Linked DNA regions of Homo sapiens: region 2 is linked to region 1. The links come from fine-mapping of genetic effects on gene expression. Tissue or cell type: whole blood. Region 1 holds a variant in brackets; the other region holds the start of a gene. All regions are shown on one strand. Distances are between the middles of the regions.

Region 1 (10,059 bases):
AAGATTTGATGACTGGAATTCAGAGGGAAAAAAATACCTGAGGTGGAACAGGTGAGGAGGGAGAATCCTGATTTAAGGATCCCCCTTGACTATTAGAGGGACAACAGGTGGCTTCACTCCTACTTGGCCACTCTGTGTGTGTGTGTGTGTGTGTGTGTGTGTGTGTGTGTGTGCACGTGTGCACATGTATGTGTGCAAACACATGCATTCTGGAACTCTTCCCCCAATAAAATAGGAAATAATACCTATAATCGTTATTGCTAACTAGCCAGATGTTATACAGCCGATCTTTTTCCTTCCCCCACCCCAACTTCGTATTGTTTATGCTATATTAGCTCCAACCATGATACTTGCTTTAGGACACATACAGTGAGTTTTTAGGGACTTCAAAAGCCTCACCAACCCTAAGATTCTGCGGAGGATGTTGTTCTGCTTTTGACAAAACAGAATTCCAGAAAGAAGCTTCCCTGTCTAAAAGATGAGTACTCTTCACCCTCTCTTTCCTGCATTGTCTGTACTTCTCGGGTCGAGGTTATTATTATTATTATTATTATTATTATTAGGCAGCATGCAGCTGATGAAGTGAAGTAGTGTTTATTTATTGATTTTTGGTCCCCGAGTTGGAACACAAGATCACCAGAAAAGAAACTCCCTCTGTGACTCATCCCAGGAACATCTTGCATTCCAGCCAGCACAAATATGATTCAAAGAACTTTCTGGAGGGCCCCAGTTATATTTTAGCAAAGGAACACATTAGCTATGCTGACCATCTCTTGAACGTTTTGCTTTTGGAAAGATAGTCATCTCTGGCCCCCTCGTGTGTCTTGTTTTTTTTATAAGATCTTGAGTCACACCCCTTTTGAGCTGATTCCCCTGTAGTGTGAGCATTGTTATTATAAAGGAGTGTCTTCTTCACAGGGGTTACAGAAGGTACCACCAACTGGGGAAACATTTGGTCATGGTGGCCTAAATTAATGACATTTCGATATTCACATAAGCATTGAGACTTTCCAGGCCATGGCTGGTGTAGCAGACATTTGTCGGTGTCCTGCCATTTCCTGCCCAGACTGGCCTCTTATACACCAAATGCTACTTACTGCAAACATCCATGATGCTCCCTAAAGGTGTGAGTTTTTGGTTTTTGGTTTTTGTCTCAGGAGCACACTAGATCTGCATGCTGGGCTAGCTGGAAGTGCCAAGGAATGACTACATCCTCCAGGAGCAGCCCTTGGCCAGTGATGGATGGGGGCGGGTGAATAAACAGCCCAACTTCCTAGCCTCTCGGTTGAGATGACTCTGAGGTCTCCCCAGTGGAATTGAGCTTCAGTTGCCCACAGTGGTAACTTGTTTGATAAATTGGCTTCCTTGCTTTCCCTGTCTCACCACTTCACTCCTCTACTGGTGTTGTCTGGGATCTTCTCCCAAATAAATTACTTTCAGTTAATCCTTGCCTCAGGGTCTGTTTGTGGGGGAGCCCAAGCTAAGACAACTAGCTAGTTGAGTTCACCAAAACCCAACAGCCTCCTCTCTTCACTCCCCTTGCCCTGTTCATCACCATCGTTAGTAATGATTCAAAGCACATAATAGGTGATGGTCATGAAGTTGCCATTGTGGCTGTAGCGCTGCAGTAGGGTGTTGTGCATGGGAGTGCAGTCCTTTGAGAGCCCTAACTTCTGCATGGAAACCTGGTAAGACAGAAACCAGCGTTTCAGGAGGTAGCCAGTTCAGTAACAGGGCCCTGGACAACTTTGGATGCTGCTAAAATCTCTGCACCAGGGAGGCACGTACTCAGGAGGTTCATGTTGGGTGAGCAATAAGTGTTTGCTGATTGTGTCTGTAAAGGAATGAATAATTGACTCACATTCATGTCCTTCCTTAGTTCTGAGTGCTTAAGGGTCAAGGTCACGCCCCTGCCCCCTTTATTTGATCTCAGGTGCCTTCCAATGGGCCCCGCAAACTTAATCATAGTTGTCGGTTCTTATCTCTATGGAGAGATTTCAAGACAGCTAGGAAGGTTCCTCCCCATGACCAGTATCTGAAATGACTCAATTATAGTTTCATTTCTTTGTCCATAGCTTTATTACTGGCTGGATTATCTTTATTATACCAATAAAGGAACATAATACTTCAGCCTTATCAGTCATGCACCTCATTGAGAATGAGTTTATCAGCTTCTTTCTGGAAAACCCAATTTTGATGGGAGAAATCTAATAATTCTGACTATCCAAGGAGAGATTGGAGGAGCTGGCGGGTAGGCAAAAATAAATATTAGACACAGAAAGAAGGTACATTTAGATTTTTTTCCTGGGACTGATAACTCAGCCAAGCCACAAGGGGATGTGCTTGATGATTTTAGAGGCATAGGAGAAGTTCTGCCCAAATTTGGAGCACCTTCCCTAAGTACTTGCAGTACTCAGACTTGTAAACAATGCTATATTTTATTTTTTTTACCATGTCCTCACTGTGCTAAGAAGTTCCAGTCCTGTCTCTCCCTCCACCCTGCTGTCCTGCAACCAAGCTATTGTAGGTTACAGCATCCCCTTGTGGCCAGCTAAGTAACTCTCATTCAGTGTTTTCCTCACAGCTTTCCTCAGTTTCTCTGTGTTCTTTCACTCTTCTGTTATAGCTAACCAATCTTTCCTTTGGACCTACATGAACTTTTGAATCTTCTCTCCTTCGACTCTTGCCTAGTTACCTCAAAAAGGCTCTTTGCTTTCTCTCTCCCTCTTATCCTTACCCTCATCCTCTCCGCTTCCACTTCTTCCATGTTTTTGTGAGTGAGAAAATGAGCTTCATCGCCACTGAAAAGTAGGAGAGGAGAGCTACTTAAGCTCTCGTGCAAAGGAGAAGGAAAACTGAAGGATATGAAGTGAAATTATGTGCGGTCAATCAGCAGTAACTTCCGAACCCTTGAAAGTGCTCATGAGTCCATATTCAAGATACAAAAGGTTCTGGCCACCTTTTCTTTCTCCCCCAGGCTTTCAGTCTGAATGAGAAACAGATTTGTGTATTTATTTGTCTTCCCACTATATTTAATTTCTAACATTGGGAGAGCATTGTTTTCTGTTTTCACTTCAAATGCTCATTTCAGCTATGTTGGGTGTTAGGTGGGTTTTTGTGGGCTGGCCTGGAAACCTTCCCGTCAGGTGTAACACCAAGCTTATGGTAAGTGCCTTCTTAGTTCCTAGTAGCTGATTTTTACATGAATCTTTGAACAAACAGGGTTGCGAATGAATAAAGCCATTCAGGTGCAAAGGGAGCATGGGTGATACTACTCAAGATGCTCACAAGAAATATGGCCGGTGGATCTGATGATGCCAATGATGCCAATGGCACAATGATGATGATGGCACTGACAATGAGAATGATGGTGAAGATGAAGACTGTATCGACAGTGCTGACAACAATAATGCTAATGACATTGATGATGGTACCAGTGATGATGATGACAATACAATAATTGCCATGATTTACTGAGCACTTTCTGTGTGTCAGGCACTGTGCCAAGTACTTCACTTAGCTTATCTCCTTTAATCATTACAACCACCCAATGTGACAGGTTTTTTTTTTTAATCATTTTACACAGAGAGAAACTGAGGCTGAGAACTTACTTGCCCCAGGTCACACAGCTAGCAAAATTAGGCAGAGCTGAAGTTTGAACCTAGGCCTGTCTAAGTTCAAAGCTTATACTCCTAACCACTCTCATAGGGGGCCCAGGGCCCAGGGTGAGGCTGACACTGTCTCCATGCCAAAGGGTGGCAAGGGATTCACATGCATTAGAAGAAGGGGAAAATCTGAACTCCAGTTCTTTGTACTTCAGAAATCTGCACCCCTTCCTTCCAGTGACCCCTCAGAGGGTCTATTTCTGGCACACTGGTCTCTGGAAAATGTCCTGCTAATGACACAGGATTATAAACAGTCTTTTTCCCAGAACAAAAATTTAACCTTTGTATCTCAATCTAATTAGAAGTATTTTCTCTTCCAGAGGCAGGTTTTTTCCTCCTCTTTGTTCCAAATTTAAGAGGTTTCTTTGTTGCCAGAAAAATGTCCAAAAACCGTAGCTCTTTAAGATGATAGACCTTGGCCCAAGACCTTAAACGTGACCTGAGCTCCTGCATGAGATGGCTGTTCCAGCAGCAGCACCTGAGGGTGCTTGGGGTTCTGGGTGTCCAACCGAACTGTAGGGCATTGGCCCAATGCAGGGATGGGCACTTGCTGACTCTCACAGTCCCCTGTCCAGGTGAGTGTTCCCTACCACCACCAGCAGCTCTTTATGATTTTCTTCTGTGATGCTGAGGTTTGCCAAGACCTGAGGAAGGCAGTTCATTCCTGTTAGTATCAGGAGCAGCCATCTCTAGAAAATATACATTTGTTCCTTTCCTTAGAGAGATCCTTGCATGAATATCACCCCTTCCAGCTGTCTAGGGACTGGCATTCTTACCTTAGAGACTTACTCCTTTACCTCTGCAGGAAATGTGAGCCTTAAAGGAGCCCTGTTAAAAGCAGATAATCCTGGGATAATATGGATTTGGTTAATATCTTCAGAATGGAGCCAAGAGAGATGGCAACCTGCCTACAAAGAAAGTGGTATCAGGTTGGAGGAATAAGAGATGCATGCCTGGCACACAGTAGGTGCCCACATCATTTTTGAAAGAATGAATAAAAATGAATGGCCACAAATCTAGTTCCATACTGTAGCCCTGCAGTCAGGCCCGTGTGGGCCCCCAAACCCATCATAGATCCTTTGCGGGCAGGCTGAAGGTAGTAGGGGCTTGGAAAACCAGGCCTGGGAGCTGGTGGCGTCCTCCCTCCAATTCCTCCTTGGTGCTCCCACTTGCCCATCCTTTGGGGCCCACAGCAATTCCTCCTCCGGCAGCTCCTGGGAGGCTAGGTTTGACTCCTCCCCAGCAGGCACCACTGGCTCCAAGGAGGCCTGAGTGAGAGTAGGGCAGTCCCCCATGTTACAAAAGAGGAAACTGAGTCCCAGATGTATAAAACAACATTCCAACAGTCATGAAAAGTTCATGTGTGTCCTGAATCTCTTCATTTCAATGACTTATCTTTTGGATATCACTGAGTCAAGGCATGGGGGTGTTCTTTTTTTGAGCAAGCTCCTCACCTGTCAAACTTTTTGACATTTTGTTGGTTGAATAAAGCCATCCCACATACTTTGGCGTTAGATGCTGGTTCCAATAGAGATGTTCTAATCTTGGGTGACTGACTGTGCTGACTCTATAGCTCGTGTGTTAAACTCAAGTGCTCCTCAACATCCTTTGAAATGTGAAACAGAGGCAACAGGTGGGGTAATGTGCCTTTAAGGAAGGAGAACGGGTCTGGGAGTCAGTGTACTCTATGCTGTGTGAACTTGAGCAAGTCACTTCTCCTCTGAGCCTCAGGTTCCTGTTCTTCAAAACAAGAGGGGTGGGGCCGGGCACGGTGGCTCATGCCTGTAATCCCAGCACTTTGGGAAGTCGAGGTGGGAGGATTACTTGAGGCCAGGAGTTC[A/CA]AGACCAGCCTGGGTACCATAGTGAGATTCCAGTCTCAACAAAAATAAAAGTAAAAATCAGGTGGGCATTGTGGCACACACCTGTAGTCCCAGCTACTTAGGAGGCTGAGGCAGGAGGGTTGCTTGAGTCTTGGAGGTTGAGGGTGCAGTAAGTAATGATTGCACACTGTACTCCAGCCTGGGCAACAGAGTGAGACTCTCCCCCCAAAAACACAAAAAAACCCAGAAGGGGTAGGTTGGGCCAGTAACACTAAGACTTGTTAAGGCAGGGGCACCCTGGAAGTCTCCCTGGGCCCTGAGAGCTTCATTTCTCCTGCTGAGTTGTAACGTTTTCATTCTCACACTCCTATTAGAAAAAAAAAATTTTGAGCACTCCCCTTAACACACACACACATGCACACACATATATAATTAGATTTATATGCCTTCCTATATTTATTACATACACTATAAAATAAAAAACAGGAATTAAAAAGATTAGATGATAAAACAAACATAAATAAGTTTTATGATACCTCAGGGCATGACCTTACCTCCTCTCACTGGGAAGACCTTGGGCCCTCCTGCTGTTTATGGCCAGTTTCTGACGCTTGGCTCCACTTCTCCTATTTTTCACAAATATCAGATCAGAGATAATATTTGTACTCTGTCCTCCCTAACAGATCTTCCCCGTAGCCACTGTCCGTCCTCATGAAGTTTAGTCCCAGTTGCAATGTTTGTGGTCACTACTGTTTTCATAAATGAATTAGCGTGTCAGGGAACTCATCTGTAAAGCTAATCTGGGCATTCATATTCCCTTCAGAGGGCTGTGTAGACCTCTGGATGTAAAAGGCAGTCGACCATAAGGCAGGTGACTATTTTGTGTATTCCTCATATTTTAACCAATTTGAGACTACATTCATGTGGTAATTATGTTCACAGCTTTGGTAAAAAGGACCTGTACTGATGTTTAAAGCTTAGAAAATTTAACCACTGGGGCAAGTAATTGACAATTATTATACCCTATGGGGAGAGGAAAACCAGTTGTTACCCAGTTGGAATTACTTCTTAGATATTTAGTGCATCTCAAGTCCCGAATGGTAAAACCATGTACATGTAGAATTAAATGATGAAAATTATGCTTTTCTTACTTGGCTCATAGAGAGTGGCTGGTGATTTTTATGCAGAATTAGGTTAGTCATTGAAGGTTTGGTTTAAGTACTGAATGGAAAGCACAAAATAGACTCAGAATAGGGCATTGATGGAAGGGGCAAGATTCTTAGCAGAGGTCTCTGGGAAGTCAGCCTTGCAAGAGGGAGAGCCATCTCACGTCTTCCTGGGGGTGAGGGCACATGGGGAGACACTGCGGGGGCCGGGGGGGAAGAGGAGGGAGTTTGGTGTGTTGATAGCCTCAGTCTTTTCTGGGAAGTAAGAAGGAAGATGGGCGATTGAGAAGGTCAGCAGACCAGCAGTCGTGTGCTCTGGCCTTTAGATTAAGGGTCCGCAACCTCACTGTACATTAGAATCACCTGCTGCATCCTAGAATAATTAAATCAGAGTCTTAGGGGTAGGACCTAGGCATGGTTTTTTTTTTAAGTTCCAGATTACTCCAATGAATAGCAAAATCTGAGAACCAGTGGTAGACCAGCACTTCTCAGACTTTAATGTGCATACACATCTCCTGGGGCCCTGTTTGGAAGGCAGATTCTGATTCAGTGGGTCTGGGCTGTGGCCTGAGATTTGTATTTCTAGCAAGATCCTGGGTGCTGCTGCTGCTGCTGCTCCAAGGACCCCACTTTGAGCAACAAGGGCATCCAGGGGTATTCAATCTTTTGGCTTCCCTGGGCCACATTGGAAGAAGAATTGTCTTGGACCACACATAAAATACACTAATGATAGCTGATGAGATAAAAAAAAGAATTGCAAAAAAAATCTCATAATGTTTTAAGAAAGTTTACAAATTTGTGTGGGCCGCATTCAAAGCCGTCTGGGCCGCATGCGACCCTTGGGCCGCCAGTTGGACAAGCTTGGGTAGACAGTCCTACTTTGACTAGAAATAATTGATAGCCGTCTCCATGCTCCATAGAAACCAAAGCTGTTGATATTTTACAATTGGAAAACCCATATCTTGAGAAAATTTTCAGCATATGTTTTAAGATGTGATTGTTGTAGGGGAAGAAACTTACCTTGATAGATGGCTTAATTTAAAAAGCAAAATACTTGACCTCTAATTTAGGCTATTCTCCAAGTCCTAAAATCCACCTATTTGTTGGTTGCGGGCATCTAACACTGACCCATCAGAGCCTCCCGTGGCTGGTGAAGGTGAGTGGCTGCCATGTTCTCCCACCATGGCACCTGCGGGTCTGACCCTCTGCTCTTCCCGAAACAAGAGCCTGGTGACCTCTGTAAGAAGTGGCCTTGTGTAAGTTTTAGTCAGCCTTTTTGAGTTGCAGCTTACTCATCAATAAAAAGAGTCGGCAAGAGACTTGAGATGTCAGCTTTAATGTCCCTGCCCACCTTGACACTCCATGAGTGTATAAATGGTGTGCCTGCGACAAGAGGGTGAGGATGAGAACACCAGGCTCAGGAAGGCTTAGGCGTTCATTTGTGCACCAATTCATCCAGAAGATATTTCCTCAGCACCTACTAGTGCCAGATATGAGGTGGGAGACTATCCCCTGCTCCTGGAGAAAGAAGTAAATAAGAAATCCCAGTATGGGCTGGGCAGAGTCAGGACTAGACAAAGTCAAGTTGGGGTCCTTTGGGAGCCCAGTGAGGGTGGGGGATGATCTCAGAAGAAGCAACTTTAGAGCTGAACCCCTTAAGTCAGACAGATGAGCAGGAGTTGGCTGGGTGAAGGCTGAGGTGGGAGAGAGCTCCAGGCTAATGGTCAGACCCTAGGGAGACCGGCCTCTGGTATAATTAGATCTTTGCAATAATTAGATGAGGGGTTCAGATAACAGTTCTGTGACCCCATGATATGGTTTGGCTTTGTATCCCCACCCAAATCTCACGGCAAATTGTAATCTCCAGTGTTAGAGGTAGGGGCCTAGTGGGAGGTGATTGGACCATAGGACTTCCCCCTTGCTGTTCTTACGATAGAGTTCTCAACAAAATCTGCTTGTTTAAAAGTGTGTGGCACCTCCCCCCACCTCTTGCCGGCCACGTGAAGATGTGCTTCCTTCCCCTTCACCTTCTGCCATGATTGTAAGTTTCCTGATCCCCAGAAGCAGAAGCCTGTATGGCCCACAGAACCGTGAGCCAATTAAACCTCTTTTCTTAATAATAAATTACCCAGTCTCAGGTATGTCTTTATAGGAGTGTGAGAACAGATTAATACACCCCAAAAGTCTGCAAGCAGAGCTAGTCTCCCAGTCCCTCCCTACCTCCTCATCTGTCCTGGGCCCTGAGTCTTTTCCCCACTGTCTCCATACAGGGGGCACATGGGCTACATGGGGGTGAGGCCCTAGCAACTGGCTGCAAACCAAGATGGTGAGGTCTCCAGGGTCTCCAGCAACTTGCAGATCCAGGTTGCCTGCTTCCTACCCAGCCACACTGCCACTGTTTACTGACCTCCACTCCCACACCCCTGGGGATAATGGGGACAGGTGGAATGGATGGGTGCCCTCATTTAAACCCATTTGAAAATGTTTTGCAAAACGCAAACGAAATGTTCCCTGTCACCTCTGAAGAAATTCATGCCCCCTGGGCTTGAGCATCAACCGGCTCCTTTGATGCTCCTTGATTTGAAGAGGTCCCCCACCCACCCTAGGCCCAAGCTAATCAGCAGCTTGTCTGAGTGGGGAGATGGGCCTCCACCTTCTCTCCAGTCACTATCTGGCTACTTGGCTTGTCCTCAGGGACACAGACTCACCCTTTGAACCCACAATTCATGAGATAGTTTTGTATTCTTAGGGCATCGCCGAGGCTTCCAGTATTAGCCCCTGCAGCAGCAACACCCACTATGCTCCCACTGGATGCACCCAGACCACCTCAGCTGCTGACTCAGAGTCAGAGTGGGGTGCTTGCTGGCAGGTTGAACAGCAAGAGGAGGAGATGTAGTGAGAAAGACCGAACGAGGCTTTCTGGGAGGTGGGAGGGTGCATGATGAAGGCCAAGTTCATGTTCCTTTGCCTGGGTGTCCCAAGGCCAGCGCCATACTTGGTGGGGACTAGGTGGAGGCAGGCAAGCCTGTCTCAGGGCCAGCAGCTCTCTAGAGAAAAGCCCAGGGCTACTCTCAGGCCTGCTTTGGCTGAGTAGTCAGGCAGATCTGGAGCTGTCCTGTTGAAGGAGGTGGAAGTGAGGTTTGGGCCAGGGGTTTTTCCCCTTTGCCCTGAGATCCTGCATACTGCTCCCCTCTACCCACACCTTGGCCTGTCCTCTGTCCTTCATCCCACTGGGCCTCAGCGTTTTTCCCAGAGACTTGAGTCACAGCAGGGGATGCAAGGGCCTCTCTGTAGCTCATTGGTGCTGAGATGCCCTCCAACCCATGTGACATCTGTCTCTGGAAGGCAGGCTGGGGACAGGTGAGTAACCAGAAGTAGGCTGAGAGGATGGAGGCCCCTCAAGCCCTCC
Region 2 (10,059 bases), 52 kb before region 1:
CAGGTGTCCCATCCAACAAGATAATTCACTGCCCAAAACAAATCTGGGTGTATTTTTCACTTCACTGACATCCCTTGCCTTATAATTTCATGCCCCTGACTTCAACTCTCTACTGGGGCTATAATCATGTTCTGGTCCTTCCTTGGTGACCTTCGTGGACCCTACTCTGTCTCATGCAGCCTGGCTTCTCACGTGGCTTGTACAGGGCTCTCCATGGATTTGGGCAAACCCTCGTGGCCTCAAGTGACAGTCACATGACTCCAACCCCAACCCCACTCTGCCCACATCCCCCCTCCACACCGAAAAGGAAGGTGTGTTTGACGGTCATGATACTTGTAGGAGAAGTGGCTGTTCCAGCTCTTTCGGAGTAAGAGACCAAGCCCAAATGGGAAGGGAGATAGCAGTGAGTTCAACAACTACTTACTGCAGGCTGCCCACACCGGGAGAACTAAAGTGGCGTCTGCAGGAGGTGCAAGCCATGAGGCCTCCCTCAACGTGCACCATCAACTCAGAGAGATGAGAGGCAAGGGCAAGGACGGCTACCACTGGTGTGAGGCATCTACGTCCCAGAGGGAGAGGAGAGCTTACTCGAAGCCACTTTGACAGAGCAGGGGACAGACGTTCCCCATCCTGACCCCTTGCACAGGAGTCTTGCCCTCCTCCATCAGAGGCAGCAGTGTGCCTTGAAGGCATGGCTAAAACAGAAACCGCCCCATGCACAGTGGGCCTTCACCCGCGTTTTAGTTTAGATTATCGCCTTCGTTTGACTTTAAAGTCAGTTTACCATGATGATCCATAACCTACTTCTTCCCTACACTTGTTTTTGTCAGATTGCTTGACTCAAGAATGGCCTTTATCCCCAGAATTGGAGGTAAAACAAAACAAAGACAACCCAGTTACTGCATGTATGTCTTAGGATGCTTTCAATGAAATTACGAGTGATAGAGACCTGACTCAAAGAAGCTTAACCTATAAAGCAGTGTAATAATTTACATAACCAGAAGTGCATGGTTGGCTGGCTCTAGAGCTGCTTATTCTAGTAGTTCCACAACCTAGCCATGGTCCTAAGTTCTTTCTCTACTTTTGCTGTGATGCCTTGAGCATCAACTCCTTTCTAGGCCTGGTTCCTAGCGTAATAGTGACCATCCATCCTGGTTTACTGGAAAGACCCAGTTTATCCCTTTTCCCCTGACATAGTTGTTAATAGCAACCCCTTTCACCCTCAGTAGCATCCTGCTTTAGGTGATCAACTATGTGGTCACCTGCATAATGTTTTTGCTGCCAGTTGCAAATGGAGTTACATTAGCCTCACATCCATCAGGAGAGGGAGGGATGCTCTCCTAGAGAGTAAGAACTTAGCTGGGAATCCCCAGCAAACCTCTCCTCTCATTTATTTGGCCCTAATTATAGCAAGAGGGATGCAATTTTTCTTAGCTCAAATAGACCTACCCTAAATATAGGATGAAATTCTAAGGTACATAGGTTTCACAGGAGAGGGATGGAAGTCTGAATATTAGTGTTCTGTTAGGAAAGAAAAATGGAGAATACAGAATACAGCAGCCACAAGCAAAGCCCTTTATAATGAGCTTGCTTCTTACTTGTGATAATTTCTCAAAAATCTCTATGAAATGCAATGCTCTACTGCTTGTGAGACTAGACAGAGCTACAACTGGACAATGAGAGGCTTCAATGCAGTGCAGGGATGGTACTTTATTATTCTTTGCTTTCTAGCAGGTAGCTTAGTACTTTAAAGTAATAGCTGTTCAGTATATACTTACTGATTGCCAAACTAAAGGACCAACTCACATATCCTTTGATCCAGTCTTTGCTAATTTTATCCAAAGTGCATAAAACAGTTCATAGGAAGTCCTCAGATGAAGAATACTGAAACTCCCCACCCCCATGCAGAGCGCAGTAGATGTCTCTGTCCCATCCAAAGAGTCAAAACCTTTCCCTCACCTCATGAGCTCTGAACATTCCTCAGGTAAAAATGTCATTCTCGTTGGACTGTTTCTCTGAATGCTTTCCATCCTCTTTCCCTAAACCTGGGTTTGATTTCGGTCCTCTGTGCTTCAGTTATCCCTTGCATTTTCTTCAGCATTTCTCCTTCTGCCTTGTGATTATGTTTTCAAATGCCTGCCTCATTCACTCAATCACCCAGTAAATATTATTAACCACGAAAACATTTGTAAAACAAAGTTTCCATTTTAAATACATTATTCCACTTCAGTAAAATATAGACCCCTTAAGAAGTTAAGAATCTCTTGAAAGCAATAGACAATTTCCCCAGATGCATTCACACCGGTGAGCATTAAACTGACATCTACAATTTCAGGGCTTTCAGGAACCCCTTGAGAAACCCACATGTTCATAAAGATGAGGTCAGATTGTGTTGGTGTACCCCAGGGTGAAGGGCTCAGCCACCAGCCCAATTCACACATGTCTTCTACAGAGTTCACCAAGTAATACTGGTTCAACCAACACCCGGGGCCTAACAACTCCAAAATCCTGGTCTGCAACTTAAATTTTGAACTCCAGATCTACTCTTCCAAATGCCTACTGGACAGCTCTACGCGGCTAATCAACAGGCACCTCCAATTCGAGATGTCTTAACCAGAACTCCCTGGAGCAGATACTGATGATGCACCACCCACATCCCTTGGGTGCTACCACTTTAATGTGCTCCACAGACATCCAGCTGCCAGGATCTTCTCTCTGTATTTGGGAAGGATCTTCTGCCTATGCTGGGTGGTAGGTTGGAATTGCCAGAAAATCAGCACCCCCTGGACTGCTCTTAACTAGCTTCTTCATCTCTGGAGTGGGTGCTTGGTATCCTGTCCAAGAGTTTGCCTGTGGGATTAAGCTCCAGTTGCTCACAGTGGTAACTGGCCTTGTGAACATGCCTCCCATTGATGGCTGTCCCTCTGGCTTCCTTCCCTCCTCCCCTACAGTGTTTCCTTCAGTTCCCAAATCAACTTTCTGCACTGGAATCCTTGTCTCAGGATATGCTTCTGGGGGAACCTACGACACTTGTCATTGCCAGCCCCAAATCTGCTTCTCTTCCTAGGGACCTCTATCTCAGTGACCACGCCCCCACCCACCCTGTCACCCAAGTCAGAAAACCAGGTGTCAGTCACCCTTACTCCTGTTTCCTCCATCATCAAGCCTTGTTGATTCTGCATCCCAAGTACCACCTGACTCAAGTTCCTACTCTTCATCTCTGCTGGCAGGACCAATCATTGCAACAGCCTCTCTTACCTGGTCTCCCTGCTGCCAATCTCACCTCCCTCTGATCAGCCCACCACACCAACCAACAGAGTGATCATTCCTCAATCCAAATCTTTCCTTGTCATTCCCTTGCTTAAAGCCTTTCAATGGTTCTCACTGACTGCAAGGAAAAGCTCCTTGACAGGACAGACCAGGGACTTCAAGTGACCTGTAGCTTCCCTTTCCCCCTCCTCTACTATTCCTCACAGCCTCTACTCTGGACTTACAAAAAATCTGCAGCCTCTAGATAGTGTTCTGCATCCCAGCTTCAGTTCCCTTCACTTATAATGCCTTTTGTTTACTTTGGAAACTTCTATTTGTCTCTCAGCACTCAGCAACTGTCACCATCTCTGGCAACCTTTTCTGACTTCCCTGCCCCATGCCATTCCCTATTCCTTCCCAGTGCAGGAATAGGCCCACTCCTTGGGTGTTCACCCAGCCTATTTTATAACTCACCATGTACCACACAATGTCAAATTGTATTATTAACAGTTCTTAATAATCTGTGAGCATACTGGGGTCAGAAACCATGTATTCACCATATCTCTAACCCACATCCTTAGCTCAGTGACTGTGCAGCTAGTAGGTGCTTAATAGATGTTTATTGGATAAACAAACTAATCGCTCATCTGGCAAGTATGTGGAAACTCGATTATAAGGAGATGCTGTATGAGAGAAGGAGGATATGGGTAAAAAGAATAAGATCTGGGATGGGAAATTTCTTGGGTACTTATTTAAAATCACCAAATATTACAATTACAGATCTCAAAAATCACCCTGACCCATCCTGGAAGATTTTGAGGTTGTTCTTTCCTGCTGTTTCGGCATGTTCCTTCTTCCCTCCATTTTCTTAGGCACCCCTTTAACTGTATGAACAAAATTATTCCACATTAATGTCCTATTTCTGTCCCAAAGCACCACCCCACACGCACACACAAATCCAGACCCACCCTTTATGAACCTTTTTTCCTTCCCTTTGCAAGGGCAGCCAGGATGAAAAGGCAGAAGGGTGCCACTGTATGTTTATTTGGGAATGGGGGCCATGAAGCCTATTTCTTCTGCATTAATCTGAATCAATATAATCTTTCCTGAAAACATAAGCACCTCAAAGGGCAGCAAATATGAATCACAACTGCCAGTGAGGATCAAACATTAACCCAGGGTTGTGATGAGGCCAACAAAAGAAATAGGCTAGTAATTGCCTTCCAGGATATCAATCCCTACCTTATACACACATACCCCCTCAACACACACAAAACCTTTATGGATCTTTCATCCATGAACTTGCCCAATTATAATTGCCCAGCTGTGTCTTTAGTTGGATTCAGGCTAGGTCTTGGCAACCGAGACCTCACATACCTTATCCAAGAACTTAGAACAGTTATGAGATCTATAGAGGAAGTCTTTGGTTGCTGAAATGATTGAAGACACATTCATAAATATTTCCACAGGTATCATTAATTAGTTGGGGCTGATTTTAAACCCCCCAAAACCTGATTGAAACAAGTAGAAACTGACACTTTCTGTTGATATTCATTATTATCAATTCTTAAACTTGCACTGTGTGTCTTTCCACCCCTGTGTGGTCTGGGTACTTCTTAATTTAACTCTTCTTTTTCAAAAGAGGAAATTCAGTATCAAGGAATGGTACTACCAGGGCTGACTTCTCCCTTAGGCATAGTAGACACAGTGCCTGGGGCTCATGTTTAGGGACCCACATAAATCTTTTAATTTCTTTTAAAATCAGAAGAAAAAATGAATTTTTAGGTTGAAGAAACTGTTTTAATATATAATGCTATTATATTCATCTTTACACAAATGCAATTGTAAAATGTAATTTGTAATATCTTTCTACGGAGGAAGGAGTCCACAAAGGCAAAAGTGCTCAAGACAGACATCATTCAGCCTCAGTTACTACCACCTTATGCTTGCAACACAACATAGTTAGAATACAGCCTTTCAAACACAAGTTCAGGCTCCCATACTAATTATAAACTGTGTTATAAAACTCAGATTTGATAAGAGGAAAGTCATGTTTAATACACACAGTATTGGAACTTCAGGGGGCTCGAGACTACCAAGAACAACTAGATTCATTTTATTCTCTGCTCTGATTAAATAATTTCTGCTCTGCTATTCTCTCTCAAATATCTTCATCCTGTTTTGATTAATAGAAAAAAATCTTTACATCTTTGGAGAATCATTAAACCAATTTGGTTGCTTCCTTGGCTGTCTCAAGAATTCTAAGGGTTTATTGTTTTCAGTTTTAAAATGATCAATAGTACAACTGACACCTACTACTTATTTACTGGTCAGCAATCATACAGTCACCGTCCCTGTAACTCCAGTTCTTTGCCCAGTATCTGGCAAACACTAGGCGCTTAATAAAGGTTAGATTGATACATGAATCACCTCTTGGATGGAAATTACATTACGTAGGTGGACTAATTTGATCTTTCCTAATCTCCCACCTTGTGAGAAGCATCCTCCACCGGTATCACAATTGGCATTTTCGGGTGATCGCTGAGCCCTTCCCACCTCCCCCGCTTCCATCAGCCAGCCACTTCCTCCCTTCTGGGCTCTGTTCCTCGCTCTTCTCCATCCTGGGGTCTGGAATGGTCCCCAGCCCGCCGGGAGGCAGTAGGGTCCCAGCTCCTCCGGCCCTCCCCCGGCGCTCCCCCCAAGGTCCTCCTCCCCGCCCCGACACCCCTTCTTCCTGGCACCCCGCGCCGCCCACGGCCACGCCCTCCCCGTGGGCGAGATCACCTGTCCCTCCTCCGCCGCCGCCTCCTCGGGTACCCTTTCGCCCCCCTCCTGCTCCCCCTCCTCCGCCGCCTCCCCCAAGCCCTCCCCTTCCCCGCCTCCTCCCACCCCTTGGTGTATATAGTAAAGGCCGGGCGCCGCACGCAGACACACACTCGCCAGGACACAGGCGCACACACGCTCACGCACAACCAGCAGCGGCGGCGGCGACAGCGACTCGGTGACAGCGGCGACGGCGGCTCCCACCGCGGCGCACCCCCTTCAGGCGGCCGGCGGCGAGGCCAGACCGGAGAGTTCCAGCACACTCGACCACCCCGCGGCTTCCTGGAGGCGGCGGCCGCGATTGCGAGGTAGTGGCCGCGGCGCCCCCGTGCGGGCCGGGGTCACCCCCGCCCTCCCCGCGCGGAGCTGCCACCGGGACGCAGGGGGCGCGCCGGGCTGGGCGCGCCTGGCGGGGCCCGGCGCCCGGGGAGGGGCCTGCTCCCGGGGGCAGGACGGCGCCCGGAGGCCGGGGCCGGCTGGGAGGGCCGGGCGGGGGCGGGGACGCGGGCCGAGGCCGCCGCCCGTGTGGCGCGCCGGGGCCCCGCTCCCGTTCCCGGCGCCGCGCACTGGCCGGCGGGGCCGGGGACTGCCGGGGAGGCGGCGCCGGCCGGCGGGGCGGGGGCCCCGAAGTGGGTTTCGGGCCGCCGCCCGCACTGGCATCGGGCGCAGAGGGCGGTGCACGGCGGACTCCGCGCCCAGGCACCGCACCGGGCAGTCTCCGGATCTGCCGTTCTGCCCCGGCCCGGAAAACCCGGCGCCTTCCAGGCCCTTCGAAAGATGGATTCTGTTGACGTATCTGGCGGCCCTGGCGAGCCTGGTGGAAAGTTGGGTTTTGCCAGATTGCGCCGGGCTCCTCTTTGTGACGCGCGGCCAGCCCCGCATCCCCCCCGGAGCCGGGTGAGTGTGCGTCGGCGCCCCGGGAGCCCCGGTGCCCCCCAATGCCCAGCCCCGGGGTGGCCGCACCAGCTCGGGCTTTCTGCCATGTTAGGCACCGAGCAACGTTCTCGCTGCATTTTTGCGTGCGTTTCAGTGGCGCCTTTTGCTGCGGAGGGAGTTATTGCTTCTCTCCGCGGTGGCTTTTTCGGGGTTGGGGTTGTGCTCTGTGTGTTTGCTTGTTTGCCATTTAAAGCCCGACTATTGTTCAGGATAAGCTCCGCCTGGGTGGGGAAATGGCATCCCACCACAGTTGCTGGCGAGGGGTAGAAATGTTGCCAAACAGCTGCTGCTTTGTGTTTCCCTATCAGAAGTCCTTGGAGTAGGTTTGGGGCACGACGGATGGATGGAGAGAGGGATGGGGCACGGAAGAAGAAGGTGGCTTTGGAGGAGCGGGTTGTTACCCACACCATGGCACTCACTCAGTCTCCCTTTCTGCCTGCCAAACTTTTATGAATATTCCTTTTGTGGCAGAGGGAAGCTTAATGAATTTAGCCCAGTTTTCCAAGGAAAAAGCAACCCAGCTTTAACAATGGTTTGAGAACTTAATCAATGAAAAAGGCAGGAGAGGAGGACAAGGAGGCGCCGACACCATATCGGGTATGTGGCTGCTGCTTGCAGAGTCAGGTAGGGGAGAGGTGGGGAGGGCACGGCGCAGCGTCTGGGTGACCGTGTTCCCGGAACTGTTGGTAGCTCTCACCTGTGCCCGCTGGTGCCACCCACCGTCGTGCCCCTATGTCGTGGGCTGTTCAGAACCCAGCGATGGGGTTTGAGGGGCGGCTTGCGGCAGTGCGCGGGCCGGCCCCCCTCATCTGGCGTTTTTAAGGATGTGTAAATATTTTGCTGAGGATAAGTGACATCAACAGAATGATATTCCGCAGAGCCCGGGTGTGCAGCGATGATAAATAGATATGGCCAAACAAAGTTTTGATAACCGCGTATTCTCATGGCTCTGTCTGTTTCATTTGGGTCTTTGTTTTTGTTGGTTTAGCATTATCTCGCATCCTCTGGTGTGATCCCTTTATTTAACTGATTCTTGGAAGCTTCTCTTTAGAACAGAGAGAAAAGCAGCCAGCAGGGAGAAAACAATTCTTAGCCTTGCAAGCATCAGGCAAGGTTTTCTGTGCTTTTCCCAGGGAATCTTTCCCACCGTTTTCTGGATGTCTCTCTTGCTCCTTTGGAGTCATCAGAATTGGTTGTTGGTGGACCGAGAGACTTGTGACAACTTTGAAAATGTGGTGTGGACATGCCTTTGTTACAGTAGAGGGGTGGCAAGGTGGGAGGGGGACAATACGGAAGGGGACAGTATGGAGGCTAGTTTTCTTCTCAAACGGGAACATGAGAAGCCAGGGGTGGGCTGGAAGGCAGAGAATTGTAAGATGGTGGCATCCCAGTTTCTCTGCCTCTTACAAGCCCAGAGAAGCCACCTGCCCCCACACCCCCACATACACACAGTCTCCTTCAAATGGGCACTCGCTTCTCGTCCTGACAGATGCCCACTAGAGGCATCCCCAGGGCAGCCCAGGCACTATGAACCAAGTCAGACTGGAACTTGGGGGTAGTGACTACTTTGGCACCAGCCCAGGGGACCATTCAGCCACCCGAGGGGGTTCCTTTATGATGAAAAAAAGCCAAGACCTCCAGTGGTGATGTTTTGCCCAGGAAAACCTGTTCATCTGAGGAACAAATGAAAAGACAGTTTTCCAAGCGATGCCGATCGCTGGGGTGAGAACACGGTTTGGTGGGCAGCTGGGGAAGAACTGTAAGACACATTTCAAAATCTTGTATCCAGAATACAGAGTCCCTGAAACAGGACCATCTGAACTACAAGAAAGAAAAATCAAAGACTGGAAGGTGTGTGAGGAGCTGTTGCTGGGAGTGCTCTAGCTGTAATGACCCAGAAGCTGAGGATAGGACTGGCCTCCCAAATCCATTGATCCAGAATGGAGATACTCTGGATGTGCAGAAAGCCCTGCACAGCGTGCTCCAAATTTATGATAAGAAAATAGGAAACGTCTGTTCTCTGGCTTCTCCCCTAAGCTTAGAATTTTGGAGAGGATGGTAGTGGAGGGAAATAAATTGGGAAGGGAACTAACATGTATTGTTGGCCTCTGTCTGCTAGGCACTTCACATGTGGTAAACCTTCTCAGCCACCCTGTGATGGAAGAATTATTTTACAGATAAGGAATCTGAGGCTCAGATAAATTTCCAGTTGTGTATCTGATTTCAGACTTTGGTGGTTATGATTTAAAGGGGCAACATGTCCCTATTCCCCTGCTCCAGGTCTCTTATTTATTTCTCTTAACCTGTCTGAACCTCAGTTTCCTTACCTACAAGATGGGAATAATCTTTCCCATCTCACATAGACGTTGTAAAGATTAAAGTGGGACACGTCAGCATGGAACCACGAAGGACTAAAACTGGAGTATGACACCAGGAACTCCAGGCCCCTAACCAAACATACAAATCTCTGGATCTCTTCCTGCTGGATCTTTCAGCCCCTCCACCTTGGCAAAATCTGGTACACAGTTGGTGGGGATTGGGGGGAAGGTGGAAGCCCACCAGTGGGCAACCCAGTCACCCACAGTGCATACTTATGTGCCAAGTAGATAGATCCGAAATACCCTGTGTCAGATGGACAGACTGTACCCTTTCATCTTGGAGTCCCCACCACCCAACTGTTGCTTAATAAATGAGAGTTGAGTGACTAAATGATGGCACTGATGGAGTGAATGGCAGTGGGGAGGGGGCTGTAGATCATTGTTAAGGGAGACCCAGCAAGGAGAGATCCAGAGATTTGTACGTTTGGTTGGGGGCCTGAAGTTCCTGGTGTCATATTCCAGTTTTAGCCCTTGGTAGCTCCATGCTGACAAGCCCCAGTTTAATCTTTACAAAATCCATGGGAGATGGGCAAGATTATTCCCATCTTGTAGGTGAGGAAACTAAGGCTCAGAAAGGTTAAGCAACTAACTCAAAGTCCACGAGGGACCAAAGGCTGGGTGAGGTATTTTTAACTAGAAACTGTCTCAAATAAACAAACACTCTATAGGAAAA

Evidence for each region. PIP is the estimated chance that this variant, and not a neighbour inherited with it, causes the effect.
Region 2: RAI2 starts here. The variant in region 1 is fine-mapped to the expression of RAI2 in whole blood (TOPMed, PIP 0.94).

What each region holds. Positions count from the first base shown.
Region 1 is chrX:17,805,438-17,815,496 of GRCh38, reverse strand. All of the region lies in intron 1 of RAI2 (retinoic acid induced 2), which reads left to right. Among named protein-coding and RNA genes, the nearest start is that of RAI2, 51 kb to the left of the region's middle. The variant A/CA (reference allele first, on the strand shown) is at 5,506.
Region 2 is chrX:17,857,419-17,867,477 of GRCh38, reverse strand. RAI2 (retinoic acid induced 2) reads left to right here and starts at 6,180. Exons shown (of 2, transcript NM_021785.6): 1 at 6,180-6,380.